Regions from separate parts of the Homo sapiens genome. Here region 2 is linked to region 1. The links come from fine-mapping of genetic effects on gene expression. A gene starts in region 1. The other region holds a variant in brackets. All regions are shown on one strand. Distances are from middle to middle. Region 1 holds the start of NEB (nebulin). Region 2 has its middle 37 kb from the start of ARL5A.

Region 1 (8,349 bases):
TTCTGGGCACAGGTAGGTGAGTGATCCTCTGTCAGATAATCCCTTTTGCCATCTTTGTGGCCCTGGGAGTCTAAGAAAGGAGAAAGCTCTTCCTGCTTTAATGAGAATGCAGTTTATGCAGCTGTGGGCTGGGCCTTACCTCTCCCGGCACCTCTTCGTAAACCACTTCTTCTGTGTAGTACTGTAAATAGAGCACAAAGGCATTGGCAAGAGAACCAAAGCAGAAACCACCTCTCCTCTGCCTCAGCTGAACCACTTAGGTGACTGCACTAGCTCGGTTGATTTGGAATGTCTGTGGGAAAGGGGTAGGTGAGGGAGCCTGTTCATATTTTGGAACCCATCTTCACTTTGTAATACTTCAGGAAAGCTAAAGTGAATGCCATCCAAATGGACAAAGAGATGCAGAGGGCTGAGAAAAATGTATGAGGCTGTTTTTTAATCAAGAGAAGCTATTTTACTTTACTGGGACATGGAAATTTTTTTCTTATGGTCCCCAAGATAGAATTTGCTGAGAAGAGAATACAATAAGAAGATCCTGAGTGTGTGGGTTGGGCAGAGAGGAACTGTGATAAAACTCACTGTTTGCAAACTAACAATAAACTAAAACAGAAACTCGAGTGTGAATACATTTTTAAATGGATTGCATCATGGAAATAATAAGATCCCAAGGTATATCCACATCTCAATTATTCCTATACCCTCCTGATTAGTAAGTAATAAGTTTCTTCTGGAGTGATGGGTGAGTCCCTTTCAATAGTGTGATTGTCCTAAACAGAGTGGTGCTAATATGAAAACTGGTAAATGCCAAGTAATGAAGGGGAAAATGAGAAGATTCTTCATCACAAAGTGTGGGAAAGGTAGGCTGCAATTTGCCATAGTGGCTCTGAGGTCATCATGGCCTGCATGATGGATCTGCAGCCTGGATCTGAAACCAAGTCTACTTTTGTTCTACTTCTGACATCACCAGCAATAAATAGATGCAGAAAGGAACTGGTTGACACTTGGTTTCAGATGTGTAAGGAGAGAGGAATCCTGTCCTTAGCCTCACCCTGCTCTGTAGGGTGAACAGAAGGAGAGGCTCGTTTAGGCCAAGCACATGAGGAAAGGGATAAAGATGAAACACTTGGCTCATTTCTTAGTGAAAAAAAAAAAAAAAAAAAAAGGATGTAAAACACTTTATGCTTCCTTTTTCTTATCTTTAACACCAAAACATACAGCACTCAAGGGAAGGGAAAACATTAAGATGCAAAATTTCCCTCAATGGCCTGCATTCTTTTCAGTGAAGTGTCATCAAATTACTTAACCATTGTCAGTAGGCCGCCTGTGCTATTTCACCTGCGTTAACAATCGTCTAGAACTTGCCTAATGTTCCTCATTCTTGTGCTTTCTTTACTCTTGAGCTATTGTTTTAATTTAAAATCTAATTCTGCCTGTATGTCGTTACACATAGCAACAAAAATCACAAGCACTGACAGGACAGAGATTTGCTTTTTTACAGTTGTGACTTTTCAGCACATGAGAAATATCATTTGGACACTAGAAAATATTGTTTGATGCTGACGCCACATAGAGTCATTCCTCCAGTCACACAAAACATCAGTGGCTTCAGAAGAAATATTAAAATAAAATGGAAGATTCACAACTATTTTGGATTTTCTCAGCATCCAAGTTTAAAAGCAGCTCCTTGGAAACCATTCAATTTTACCTTTGCTGGGCTCTCACCATTGGTAAATCCATCTTAGAAATACGCTTATAAAAGAGGCAACATTATTTAAATGGTTGGCATTAACTTGTATGCCAAATCTCACTCTTTTTTTAGAGCTGTGCCACTAATTAGATAGTGCATCCTTGCTTCTCTCTCTTTCTTTTCAAGTTTAAGTTAGAGTAGAGAGAACAGTAAAACTTTATTTCAGATGTCCAAGATCCCAAGGAGATATATTTTTAAAGCCAGTTCTTCTCTGTTTTCTGCATATTTTTAAAGCTAGTTCCTCTCTGTTTTCTAAAATCTTCCCTGGCCATTTTTTCGAATGCACCACCCTCTTATGCTCATGATCTTTTTTGAGGTCAAAGAGATCTCAGTTCAATACTTTCTGGCAGGCAGTCTATTCGTTTATCACCTGCTGGTCAGACACAGATGCTGTAATGGGAACAAAATGGTAGGGATGGGATGTCTAAAAATAGCCACCTCCTTTTTTATGACATCTAGTTGAATCAATCAAGTCTAGCACTAAGGACAATTTCCAGTGGCAAAGGTACACAATTATTTTAAGAAAGACAAGGGATATTTAAGTTGGAGAGTAAAAACTGTTACTGGCATTATTATCATAGGGAAGACAATTTAATTTATAATTGTATTAGTGTTTGACAGTGATATTTCTGACCCTTAGGTACATAAGTAAAATGCACACTAGTGATAATATCAGCATGAAAGATGTGGTATCAGCATTTAAGCCAGAGAGGCTGAGTGTTACATTGTACGAGATTCATTCTATTTTTTCCCTCATATCCTTCAGTAATAAAAGCTATTTTATTTGTAGAATAAATAAAATTTTCTTCATCTAAATATAGACTGGTCACTAAAATAATTTTCCAAAGAGAAATTTTGGCACTGCCACCTAAAATTTGGTTCTGGGTAGCTCTTACAGTTAATTTCAGTCTTATTAAAAAGCACAGATTTTCAAAACTGCCTCCAAGTGCCTTAGGCATTTGGAGATTTTCATGTGTTTAGATCATCATCATTAATTGGTAATTATTAAGCACATTCAGATTCATGGCACTGTATTTATGTGCATTATAGTTCCAAGCCTTTAGATTTTATTTCTAGAATGTGAAGCTAAAGGCAAGAGCCGGTGAGGAAAAACCGTAAGATGATAAAAACAAAAGGATGTAAAATAAATATAAAATAAATGATTAACAGCTTTGTAAAATGTGTTAGATGTCCACTAATAATTGGAAGGAAAATTTTCAAGATACCCACTATAGTCTTTGTTCTTATTCAAAATTCAAAAGCAAAAGCTAGTCTTGTTGACTTGGGTAAATATAATGAAGTTGGTAGGAAGGTGTGGCTCCAACAATCGCTGTGACCTTCATGCCTTTATTTATATTTGCTTGTATGTGTGTGTCTGTGCACATGTGTATGTATTATGTATAAAGTCTCACATCTGCATATAATTTCATACATATGATTATTCTGAATATCTAACCCATGTTACCCTATAGATGATTAGCTAGTTGAAGCAAAGAATAAGGAGTAGATCTTTTCTTCTATTGCTATACAGATACTAAGAGACAGAGTTCCATTTTCAGAACTTTCTCTTCGTCTCTGTCCCTTTGAACATCGGGGTTGGGAAGTGGGGAAGAAAGCAGTTTTAGAAGACGAATTAAAACCTGCCTTTACTCCAACTTGGTTTTTTGAGAGCTTAAAGAAAAGCAAAAGTGGGAAACAGTGATATTTCCTGTCAATTCTAAATCCCACATAATTATAGTGAAACTGAACATAAAATATTCCTTTCTTATGCTTTAAATGATGACTCTTTGTGAAGTTATAATAGACAATGTATTTTTCGAATGATTAATTCACCTACACAGCTTTGATTGTCACTACATAAAATAGTTTGCTGTCAGTGTTTTTTTTTTAAATCTTACCTCCACCACCTCCTCATAGTCTTCGTCATCTGCCATTTTTCCAGAGTAGTAGTGGCACCTACAAACTTTTCATATTCCATACAAATGAAAACATATTAGAGTCTATTCCCAGCACAGAAATTATCTTATGACATTATAAAAATAGAATTTGAAGCTAAACTATTGTACAAATTCATATATTGTTGCAGGCTAAAGGAGAGAAGACATTTAAAATACAAGTATAAACAGCAGAAGCTTCAAATTTCTTTCTCTTTATTCCTTCAGTGTTGGGAATTGCTACTTCTACATAATCAGTTTAGTTAAAATTGTAAAACGAAATTGAGGTAAGGAAGTGAGAGAGTTTGGACTCAGGGAACAGAGAATTTAAACTTCCAAACACTTAGAGAAAAGACATTTTCCAGCAAAAATTTTAGTGAAAGGTCAGCTTGGGTTTCAGAAGAAGCTGAAATTTATCCCCCAGCACCAAAATTCTAAGAGGGCTGACTTAGTTTTCCATACTGCCCTGATCCACTGTTTGCAATATATCTTAGGCTTCAAATTGGAACCCATAAAAATACATCTGTCAATAAATTTTAAAAGAAAAAAAGAAACCTCAAGGCAATGGGGTTATTTTCTTCCCGAACACCATTGGCTTATACAGACTTTTTCTTTCGTTTCTGTAGCTCTCGTTCAAACCTGAAAAATAACAAAGTTGTAAAGCATTGATTGAGGTACATATAGGATTGTCAGTCCTTAGCCTAAGCTTCTAATGCAGAAAACAGCGAAAGGATCTCTCAAGGCCTCTACAGTTTGACGCCAGAGAGTAAGACTCTTGATATGAAGTGGATGATGAGTTGGAACAGCTGTCCCTTCATCCAAAGATGTTTGCCATGTAAACCAATACCCTGCAGTGGCTGGTTTTGTTAAGCTAGCGAAACTGCCACTCCTCAGGCAAATGAAGCCCAGTAGAACAGGATAAATATAGGAACGTAGAGCAGCGTATCTTCTTTTTCACACTAATATATTTAGAGAAAAATATCAAAGGCAAAAAAATGTTAGACAAGAGAGCCAATTCAGTCAAGCAATAAATTGGTTAGCAAAGGACTTGACTCTAATCACACACGGTACATAGCAGATATTAGTAGGGCCTTAGTAGGGCAATGGGGTTAAACTCTCCTAGCCATATTTCTACCACTAATTTCCTCAGTTATGGCCCAAACCTTTGAAAAATACTTCGAGGGAAGTTGTGGAGCATCTCCTGAAAGAGTATTACAGAAAAAGTCATAAACTGGCCTTACCTTCAATCTACCAAATAAATTTCCTCAGCAGCAAAGCCTCTCCCAACTCTCCCCTCCTGAGAACCCCAGGCAAAAGCCAGCGTGATGCCTGGGCTCCGAATTATCATGTGGCAAGAGCAACCAATCAGATCTTGAGTTGCTCAAATTTCAGAAGCTAAATTTACCAAGTGATCTTCTGAAAACCACCTGTTCATCAATTCCACTAAAGGATAAAGGGTAACAAATTGCTTGCTTAGAACAATTCAAATGGAATCAAATTTTACCTAACTTCCAGCCTGTGCAGTTCAATTTTAGGTTGAATTTCCCATTTACTGAGGCCCCATTCAATGTCATATTCATGCAAAAGAATTTAGTAGAAAATAAGCATGACTTTGAGAGGCTTTAACCCTTCCGTGACTGCTTTCTTCATGTCATTTGTCCAGTCATGGTGGTAAATGTACTCACTCTGGTAAGGTTCACCAGGTGAGCTACAGGTAAGTTACTGGTGCTAGTGTGAAAGAAACTGAGGAATAAGACCCAGTAAACATCAAGTTGACAAAAGCAATTTTTAAAAATGTGATGAGTGAAGTTAAAGGTGAAAATATTTGACAATGGCACTAAATAAGATATCCACAGGGTGTAATTAGAAAGATTAGACCCCATCATTTTTCTGTTACTAAACCAAGAGGGTATACCAAAATCCTATTTAGCACCTTCTCCCTCCTTAGATAAGGCAAGCTGCTAGGAATACAGAACCTCTCTCATATGTAACCGAGTTAGTGATTTTTCTATTAACTCAGATGACTCCTGGCTCCCAGAAGCAACGTGTGAATGCGGACACAAACAGGCTCAATTTCTGAACAGCAAGAGCAGATAACATGGAAATCAGTAACTTATCAGGAGAAAATAATGCCCTATTTGGCAAATCCGAACGTAAGACATTTCCTTCATAAAAATTATCTAACCATTTTCTTAAAACTTGCCTGATGTCTTTCTTGCACTTTCTTTGCTCCTGAAGTATTTTTTCTAATTTAAAATCTAATTCTATCTGTCTGTCTGTCTGTCCTTACACACAGCGACAGAAATCACAGGCTCTTATGTGACAGAGAACTGCTCTTTCTCTGGGTTGCTCCTGTATTCAGGCAAAACCCTGTGAGTCACCTATATCTTGATATGGATTTGAGATTAAACATATTGTAATATTTTTTCTTTTTTAAGTTAAACATTAGAAAGTAATCTCGCTGGGCGTGGTGGCTCACGCCTGTAATCCCAACACTTTGGGAGGCCGAGGCGGGCAGATTGTCTGAGGCCAGGAGTTTGAGAAAGTAATCTCATATTTCAAATACATGTACCTTTTCCCCCTCCATGATTCACATGGTAGTAAATAAAATCTAACAGAATTTTATCATCTTAACTGATTATACCTGTTCATCTTGTATGTTCTCACAGGTCTTATGACCAAAGGATATTTATGTAATATGAGATCACTCACTTGGTAGCTGCAAACTAGAATTGTGACTTACTAGTCATTACATGCTTTAAAATGTGTTGTTGAATTAAAAAATAATACAGGCCCATACTTTAAAAACATAGAGTACAAAATTATATAAAGTAAAAAATGAGCATTGACCTTCTTAGTCATTTTTAAGTTTCAGATATTTTCAATATAGATATTGACATAAATCGATATACTTAATATGCAATAGACATTTTTATGAAACATCACATAAACATATCCTACTCTAATTTCCACAAATAATTCTATTGATTGGATAGAGTATAATAGTTTAATCATTATTAATGGACATCTAGGTTGTTTCGAGGTTTTTGCTATTACAAAATAAAGCAAAACAATGCGAAACAAAACACACAGTAAGCATCCCTGTACATTACCTTTGTATACTTATATGAAATGTATCTGTAAGGTAAATTTCTAGAAATAGAAATACTGAGGCAGAAGATATATGCACATTTTGAAAATTGATAGATATTGTCAAGTTGCCAGTCAAAATCCTTACACTATTTTATGTTTCACTAACAGAGAATGAGGGTTCCTATGTATACACATCTCAATATCCTTAGGGATTATTAGACTGAAAAATCATTACTATCTGAGCTGAATGTGTCCCCCCAAAATTTATATGTTGAAGTCCTACCCCCCGATGTGTGGAAAGTGATTGGGTCATAAGGGTGGAGCCCTCACGAATGGGATTAGTACACTTATGAAAGAGGCCCCAGAGAGCTGCCTGGCACTCTCTCTGCCATGTGAAGTTACAGGGGGATGATGGCCAGCCACAACCTGAAAGAAAGTCCTCACTAGAACCCAACCATGCCAGCACCCTGATCTTAGACATCCAGCCTCTAGAACTATGAGAAGTAAATTTCTGTTTATAAGCCATCCAGCTTATATTATTTCTGTTATAGCAGACCAAATGGACTAAGACACTCTTTATACATTACTTTTGAAACCACTATGATAGTAAATAGAAGTGCTACAGATGAGCAGAACCTCAAACTCCATTCATAATGAAGTGTGCATCTAAAAAGTTAGGGTGGGGGGTGGGGCAAGAGTGAGTTCACATGAAATTACCCTGGCTTAGATCTCTTGGGATAAATTCCTCCTAAAAGAAAGCCCCAAAGCCCCTGCTAAACTGGCCTGCTGCAGGTTGCCCTAATAATTTGCAAAGCCATCAGAAGTAAGAGACTCACAGGAGAGCTGGTTATATTCCTACCATGGTTACACAGGGGTGAGTGAACCAGCAAGCAGCTTATATTTACCTCCTAGTCACACTAGAGAAAAACACTGCCACCTCCTTACTAAATTCTGCAGATTCTAATCTGGAATGATGCCCTCTAGAGATGAAAGAACAGCTTTATTTTCCTGGCCTATCTATGACCTCTTCTGTGGAACGACAGTACATTGGCACCCTGATTTATTGGTAGGTTCTTATTATATGCCTTGCACATGGTAAGTGTTCAGTAAATGTTAGCTATTATTATTTTTACTATTATCATTTTTTACATTATATTGGAAGCTTCACGCTTTATTCTGTATTTAACTGAAATACCAAATATCTTGAAGCTTCTAAAATCAGACAATAGTTAGTCTAAGAATTTATGAGTACGCAGGCATCTGACTAGAAGCTTGTACAACTGGCTACAAACCAAAGCAGGGCAGTTAGGTGCCAATATCGGAACTTCAGATAAGGCTTCCCTAAATATGAAAATATAGAAGTGTCATGCCTGGAGACCAAAAAAGACATGATAAGGGGAGATGGGATTGTAACAGTTTTTGTTGTCATTACTTTGATTTCAGTATTTTGATCAACCTCTATATGAACATAGCTTAAGAATCAAGCTTAAGTTTCATAAGACTTGCTACTAAATCAACATTTCCTGTTTCCTCTATTCCTTTTTCCCCTCCCTGGAGACATCACTTGGACTCATT
Region 2 (8,349 bases), 58 kb after region 1:
CTATATAACCTAGAGCCAATCAATCTCTGTGTGTTTTCTCTTTTGTTAAATGTAGAACTTAATTCTTGCTCTATATACCTCTCAGGATTGTGAGAATAAAGATGATACATGTCAAATCAACTTGGAAATTATGGCACTATTGTAGAGGTGGCAAGAAATGGGAAATACTTTAGCAGACATATTGGACTAAGTTCCCAGCCAAGAACCAAATAATTTAAAAAATATTTAAGTGCAAAGAAACCACTAAGGCAACATGTAACCTCCTTTTACTAACAAATAGATGTAGTAATAAGACAAATCCAGGCATATAGTACTTACATCACTTTATGATAATACATGCTAAGGAAAAGTAAAATTGGCCAAACCCTGAAAGTTTCTGTTCTGTATATGTATGGACACCCCCAATGCATGCCATGCTGGTAGTGGGGATATGGAGCTGAATGGGATCGAGTCACTGCCCTCCAGAGGCTTGCAGTCTGGAACGACCTGCTGAAAATAGACAAAAATCCCGCACTATGGCAACAGAGAAAGACGTGCTGAACCGTCTTCCAGATCAGGCCAGGCCTCCCAGGCTGATGGGAGAGCTCAGTCTTCAAGGATATGTCAAAGATTGCTATGTGAGAAAAGGAAGGAAAAGGCATTCTAGGTGGAAGGAACAGGCTAGATCAAGGCATGAGACAGAAAGAATAGATGTTTAGAATACATTTAATTATAATAACCAGTATTCAATATTTTAGAAATTGTTAAAAAGACAATCAGCAAAACCACTATTTATTGAGGTTCCAAAATATATTGGGCTTGTGTTAAGGGCTCTGATACATACTTAGTTAAAAATATAATGAAACTAAGGTCCAGGGATGTTACTTAGCTTGCTGATAATGTTGTGGGCATATTAATAGGGTGTCTTTTTTTCACAGTATCAGGCTGATGATTTTTCTTGGCACCATATCCTACTTACAGTTAGCTTTCTAAGAAAAAGATCAGGTAAAGTTAAAACATTTTTAAAGTTCTCCAGTTTGATTCTTATCTGTAGGCACATCTTTGTAATAAACGTAAAATAGCAGCATTCTTTACATGGCATAAGGTAGTTACAATTCCTTCCAAAGGAATAAGAACTAGGAAATTCCTGGGAATAGTCATTATAGGTCAATTTGACTCAACCAATTGTCTACTGTTTCTGAAGAACTTTTAAAAAGCTTTATTGCTAATCATTCTTCCCTGCCACTTGCCTTCTTACCTCAAATGTAAAAACTGAGTAACAAAAACTTTAAGGCAAAGCTCTTATTTTACAATATCATTTCAGGATTAAAAACAACAACATGAATTGAGTCACAACTATGTGCTTGGATCATAGAACTAGTTTACTTTCTTAATTGAATTAACATAACAGCATCATTTTAAGATTTGTGTAACTAGAGCAGGGTATGGTGGTGCAGGCCTGTAGTCCCAGCTATTCAGGAGGCTCAGGCAGGAGGATCACTTGTACTGAGGAGTTGAAGTCCAGCCTGGGCAACACAGTCAGACCTTGTCTCTAAAACTAAAATAAATAAATAAATAAATAAATAAATAAATAAATAAATAAATAAATATGTGTGTACCTGAGGCAAAGAACAGGCAGAAATACTGATGATCATTCTGCCAAGTTGGCAAAGAAGCCTTGCCCTTTTTTTTTCTATTAGCAGTACTTAATGTTCACTACATTCATTCATTCACGAGTTATTTTTTATATAAAGGTCATTAATGACATTAAATTGCCTATTATAATGGCCCAATGTAAACATCAGCAGTTTGTCAGCAAGAAAAGCTTCATTATTCACAAATGCTGGTCAAGTCTTGCTACTAATTCATTTGATGACAGAATGACCAACTGCCCCTTAAGCTGACAACCCTTCCCCTCCACTGCTATCACTGCAAAAACACATTGTCCCCTATCTGAACATGATAACCGAGTGTCGTTTCTGGGTAACACTGAGGTGATTCAAAACACACTTCATAATTAACAATGTGAATTATTTCACATCATCCCATCTCTTTATCATACCGTCATTCTTCCAGGCAGCAAGCTCCAACTGCTCTGTGCCTCCTTCCTCTCTTTCTCCTCATATCTAGTTACCACAACTCCTCTTCTGCCCAGACCAGTCCTGCAGGAATGTTTTTCTTCTTCTTATCCCCCTTTTTCATGAATTAAAAAAAAAATTATTTTTAGTTGACAAATTGTATGTATTTATGGGGTATAATGTGGTATTTTGATATGCTGGAGTAATTATTAATAGTGCCTTCTTTGACTCTTAAGCATGTCCCATTTTGGCTGATAACTTATATGGTTACTTACCCATATTCCATTAGATATCAAGTTTATCTTTGCCTTCTCTGCCTTGTTTCAGGCCTTCATTTTCTTTCACCAGGGATAATATAATAATCTATTTATGATGTTATCCCCAGTTTCCTCTCTTTTCAACCCATCTTTTAGAAGTTGCCACAATAACTTTCATTTTAAGAGGCTGGCCTTAAACTGTTATTCCCAGGCCAGGTGCAGTGACTCATGCCTGTAATCCCAGCACTTTCGGAGGCCCAGGTGAGAGGATCATTTGAGTCTAAGAGTTTGAGACCATCTTGGGCAACATAGCAAGACCACATCTCTAAGAAAAAAAAAAAAAAATTAGCCAGGCGTGGTGGTATGTGCCTGTAGTCCCAGCTACTTGGGAGGCTGAGGTGTGATGATCACTTGAGCCCAGAAGGTCAAGGATGCAAAGAGCCATGATCATGCTACTGCACTCCAGCCTGGGAAACACAGCAAGATCCTGTCTTAAAACAAAATAAAACAAGCAAACCTTCAGTGGTTCCCCAATGCCTACTACTACTGCCACCTCACTTTAGTCTATAAGGACTGTTGACTCTTGCTATCACTGTCTCTCTTCATATAGCCTCCAGTACACCTGATGTGAACTATTCACTTTACATTTGGAGTGGGTTTTTGTTTGTCTGTTTGTTTGTTTGTTTGAGATAGTCTCATGGTCCCCTGGGCTGGAATGCAGTGTTGCATGTTGCAATCATGGCTCACTGTAGCCTCAACCTCCCAAGATCAAGTGATCTTCCCACCTCAGCCTCCCAAGTAGCTGAGACAACAGGCACATGCCACCATGCCTATTTTTTTTGTTTGTTTTTTGTAGAGATGCGGGTCTCACTATGTTGCCCAGGCTGGTCTCAAACTCTTGGGCTCAGGTTCTCCTCCTGCCTGGGCCTCCCAAAGTGCTGACATTACAGGTGTGAGCCACCACACCCAGCCCCTTTGGGTGTTTTTAAATATAACTTTGGCATTTATAACAAATGCAACCACATGTTAGATCTTATTAGAAGTACTAAACTTTTAGGACACCAGATCAGGTTGAAGAGTATTTTGAGTACAGCAGTTAAACCATTTAAAAAGACCATTACCATTTACAACTAATTCTCTGCGGGCATTTGATGTCATTACTACACAGCCAAAAAGAACCTATCCCACAAACCAACCAACCACCAAACCATCTAAAGCAAAACACATAATATCAAGGCATAAGCTAAAAAGGTAATCTCTTTACATCTGCAATAATTGGTAAGAACTCTGTCAAAATCAGACTTGCACTGAAGGTTGCAAATGGCATTGCATCAGTGAATTTTTACCAATCACCTTTTGTTGTTGTTGTTGTTGTTGTTTTTTAATTTCAACTTTTATTTTAATTTCAGGGGATTTATGTGCAGGTTGTTACCTGAGTGTATTGCATGAAGCTGAGGTATGGGGCATAAATGATCCCATCACCGAGGCACTGAGCATAGTACAATAAAGCTTTTCAACCTTTGGCCCCCTTTCCCTTACCCCTCTAATAGTCCCCAATATTGCTGCCATCTTTATGTTCATGAGTACCCAATGTTTAGCTCCCACTTATAAGTCAGAACATGTGGTATTTGGTTTTCTGTTTCTATGTTAATTCGCTTAGGATAACAACCTCCAGCCACATTGCAAAGGATATTATTTTGTTCCTTTTTATGGCTGCATAGTATTCCACTTACCAATCATCTTGATCTCTGAACTGAGAGCTTCATCCCATTTACTTAATACAACTTTTGTATTCCTTCCCATCCCTATTAGATGATTCTTTAAAGACAAAATGATTCAGCAATGTTTTCTGATTATTGGTATAATGCGCTCAATATAGAATATCTGTAACATACAAAATCGTAATCAGAAAAATACTGGTTGTAATGTTGCCGCCTACAACTCCTAATGTTATAATACATTTCTTTCTT[C/CT]TTTTTTTTTTTTTTAAAGACATAGTCTCACTCTGACACCTAGGCTGGAGTGCAAACACAGCTCGCCGCAGCCTTGAACTCCTGGGCTCAAGTGATGCTCTCACCTTAGCCTCCTGAGCAGCTGGGACTATAAGGTACCTGTCACCATGTCTGGCTAGATTTAAAAAACATTTTGTAGAGACAGGGTTTCGCCATGTTGCCCAGGCTGATCTTGAGTTCCTGGGCTCAAGCAGTCCTCCGGCCTCAGCTTCCCAAGGTACTTTCCTATCTTTTTTCTATGTTTTTTGTTCTCGCATAATTCAGATGATAGATGTAAAAGTTTATATTATAAAAAAATTGTTTATCCTGTTTAACATGTCACAACCATTAATAATTTCCTCATATTATTTAAATCTGTTAAAATATTTAATGGTAGCATGTTTTATCATATAACTCAACTGTTTTTAATATGATGGACATAAATGGATGGACACTGGGTGACTTTTCTGAATGAACACAGGACTTCCTACACAGGACTGGCATTTAGGGCTGACAGCATAGATGGACACATTGGTGGGAGAGCATCCTAGAAGCAGAAGACTGGCCGTCTATGGTAGATAATAAAAGTTGTTCATTATTCTTCCCCAACATTAAAAAAAGGTCAGCTGAGAGATTGTATACATCTTTTACCTTCTACCCTTCCCAAAAGGAGTCAATGATTAGCATAGGCTGAATACATTATAAGCCGGTTAACAAGTAAACTGCACAATAAAGGCTAAAGATCACAGAAACCTTGTGGGCGGAGGGAAGCTTTGCACTGCCCACTGCTGGAAGGACTGGTGAACATGTAGCATGACCTGAAGATGCCCAGAGTGGTGGTGGCCTGTGACAGTAGTCAACAGGTTTACAAATCTTAATATAAAGTGTCTTAATATAGAGATGGCCGTGTATATGCTGAAGAATTGACCAGGATGTGGGGAATCTTTTCGGAAGACAATTAGGCAACAGGCTACCAAAGCCTTTTAAAAGGCCATATGCTTTGACACAGCGATTGGACTTGTGAGAATTCATTCTATGAAAAATAAATCCAAATGTTAACTACAGTAAAATTACTGCAATGGTAAGAAATAAGGAACAACAATGTACATCAACATTAGACTGGTTAAATAAATTATGTCATGTCCAAACAGCAAACACAATATATCCATTAAAATGTTTTATATGTAAATGATGTTTACAGTATATCATGGAAAAATAAAGAAGTTTTTGGAATTCTGTATTCAAAACAAACTAAGAAATGTATACTCATTTGTTGCATAAGGATGGGGATTTGTTCTAAGAAATGCATTACAAGTGATTTCATCACTGGGTGATCATAGAGTCTATGTATGCAAACCTGGATGGTATAGCTACATGGTATAGCCTATTGTTCCTAGGCTACAAACCTGTACAGCCCGTTACTGTACTGAACACTGTAGGCAATTCTAACACAACGGTTATGTATTTGTGTATCTAAACATAACGTAGGTACAACATATGTTACTTGGGTGATGGATACACTAAAAGCTCTGACTTCACCACTATGCAACCTATAGATGTAACAAAATTGTACTTGTACCCCATAAATTTATACAAAATTTCTTTAAAAGATAAAAAAAATGGTACACCTGTATAAGGCACTTAATGTGACTGCAGTTTGCAGGACTGGAAGTTGCTCTGGGTGAGTCAGTGGTGAGTGAAAGTAAAGGCCTAGGACGTTACTGTACAGTACTGTAGACTTTATGAACACCCTACACTTAGGCTAAATTTATTTTAAAAACAAACCGTGCTACAATATTACAACAGTTACAACATCACTAAGTGATAGGAATTTTTAAGCTCCATTACAATCTTACAGGACCACCACCGTGTATGTCATCCACTGCTAACTGAAACCCTGCTATATGTCCCAAAGTGTTGGTAACGGTTATCTCAATTTGACTTATGTCTCTTTTCTGATTTTCACTCAAAAGAGTCATGTATATCTTATGTAATTTTTTAAAAATTTTATTTATTTATTTTTTTGAGATGGAGTCTCGCTCTGTTGCTCAGGCTGGAGTGCAATGGCACAATCTTGGCTCACTGCAACCTCCACCTCCTGGACTCAAGCGGTTCTCCTGCTTCGGCCTCCTGAGCAGCTGGGATTACAGGCACGTGCCACCGTGCCCAGCTAATTTTTGTATTTTTAGTAGAGACGAGGTTTCACCACGTTGCCCAGGCTGGTCTTGAACTCCTGACCTCAGGTGATCCACCCGCCTTGGCCTCCCAAAGTGCTGGGATTACAGGTATGAGTCACTGCACAAGGCTGATTTTTTTTTTTTTTTTTTTTTTTTGAGACAGAGTCTCACTCTATCATCCAGGCTGGAGTGCAGTGGTGTGATCTTGGCTCACTGCAACCTCTGCCTCCCAGGCTCAAGCGATTCTTATGCCTCAGCCTCCCAAGTAGCTAGAATTACAGGCGTGCACCACCATACCCAGCTAATTTTTTGTATTTTTAGTAGAGAGGGGGTTTCACCATATTGGACAGGCTGGTCTCAAACTCTTGACCTCAAGTGATCCGCCCACCTCAGCCTCTGAAAGTGCTAGGATTACAGGTGTGAGTCACCAAGCCTGGCTGTAATTTTTTAGGCCAGGTGCAGTGACTCACAACCGTAATCCCAGCACTTTGGGAGGCTGAGATGAACAGATCACTTTAGACCAGGAGTTCGAGACCAGCCTGGCCAAGATGGCAAAACTCTGTCTCTACCAAAAATACAAAAAAATTAGCCAGGCATGGTGATGCATGCCTGTAATCCCAGCTACTCGGGAGGCTGACGCAGGAGAATTGCTTGAACTTGGGAGGCGGAGGTTGCAGTGAACCAAGATCACACCATTGCACGCCAGCCTGGGTGACAGAGTGAAACTCTGTCTCAAAAAACACACCACTTTATATGCTGAAAAGATAATTATAAAAATTTAAGCAGTATACTAGGATGTGTTTTGCACACACATCTGCAAAAACATGACAAAAGATAATATATTCACTATTTAAACAGAGCTCCAGTGGTGAAATTGGTTAGCACATGATACTTATATTTACTGTTTTAAGAATTTAATTTATTCACAAGAACACCAAGATTATAATAAATGAATAAAGCAAAAGAACAATTCAGAGGGTATTAAAACAGCAAAGAAAAATAGTCTCAATAACTAAATAGGTGCAAAATATAACAATATGCTTATCTCTCTATTAAATCGGAAAGGGTTTTGTTGTTTAACATATAGTGAAAATTTGAAATAGGCACCCTCAAATCCCATCCTACCATTTAATCCAGTAGTTTCACCTGAGATTACAGCCAGAAGAAATAATTTTAAATATGAAAAAACACACTAAGTAGATGGCCATTGCAATGTTATTTGTAATAATATAGGAAATACAGTAGAATATAATTTGGGGATCTAAATATATTGGAATTGTTTCAAAAAGATTTTTTCAGTAAACATCTATTTTGGTATAGAATAACTGGCTAGAATGCAAAGTATGTAATGATGAAAATAATGGGTCACCTAGGCATCCCAACTCATGGAATCCCAAAAGGGTGGTAATCAATCATAAGGAACACATTCAAAAGGACTGTTAGAGGTTATTCTAATGTTGTGAAAATCTCATCAATTTCATGGGACAAAAGTTATTTACTAGCAAAAAGGGGATATTCCAGATATTAAAAAATGAAGAACAAGCATAAAAGATGAATAAAATGACACAGCTGTTTTTCCAAAAAAGCTGGTATACCATTTACTATTTCAGTATCTGCAGATGCTGACAACAAACTCTGGTATGTTACTTACATTCCTTGATGTAGGCCCACACAGATTTCAAATACATAAAATTTGTATATATCTGCCACTGCATGATGCTTTTAGACCATTTTTAAGGAAATAAGTGCTATTTCTACTGAAAGAATGAATGAGAAAAACATACAGTCACCTAAAAACTCTTTTGAAGTTAGGCAGAATTAAATGAGAATTGAGGTAAGTGTTACGTAAGAATTAAACGAGGCAGTATGC

Evidence for each region.
Region 2: its variant is fine-mapped to the expression of NEB in CD4 T cells (BLUEPRINT, PIP 0.95).

The regions. Positions count from the first base shown.
Region 1 is chr2:151,729,476-151,737,824 of GRCh38, forward strand. It overlaps NEB (nebulin), which reads right to left and starts at 5,001. Exons shown (of 182, transcript NM_001164508.2): 1 at 4,923-5,001; 2 at 4,237-4,320; 3 at 3,646-3,710; 4 at 140-181. The coding sequence starts at 3,681.
Region 2 is chr2:151,787,711-151,796,059 of GRCh38, forward strand. No RefSeq gene overlaps it. Among named protein-coding and RNA genes, the nearest start is that of ARL5A, 37 kb to the right of the region's middle. The variant C/CT (reference allele first, on the strand shown) is at 4,285.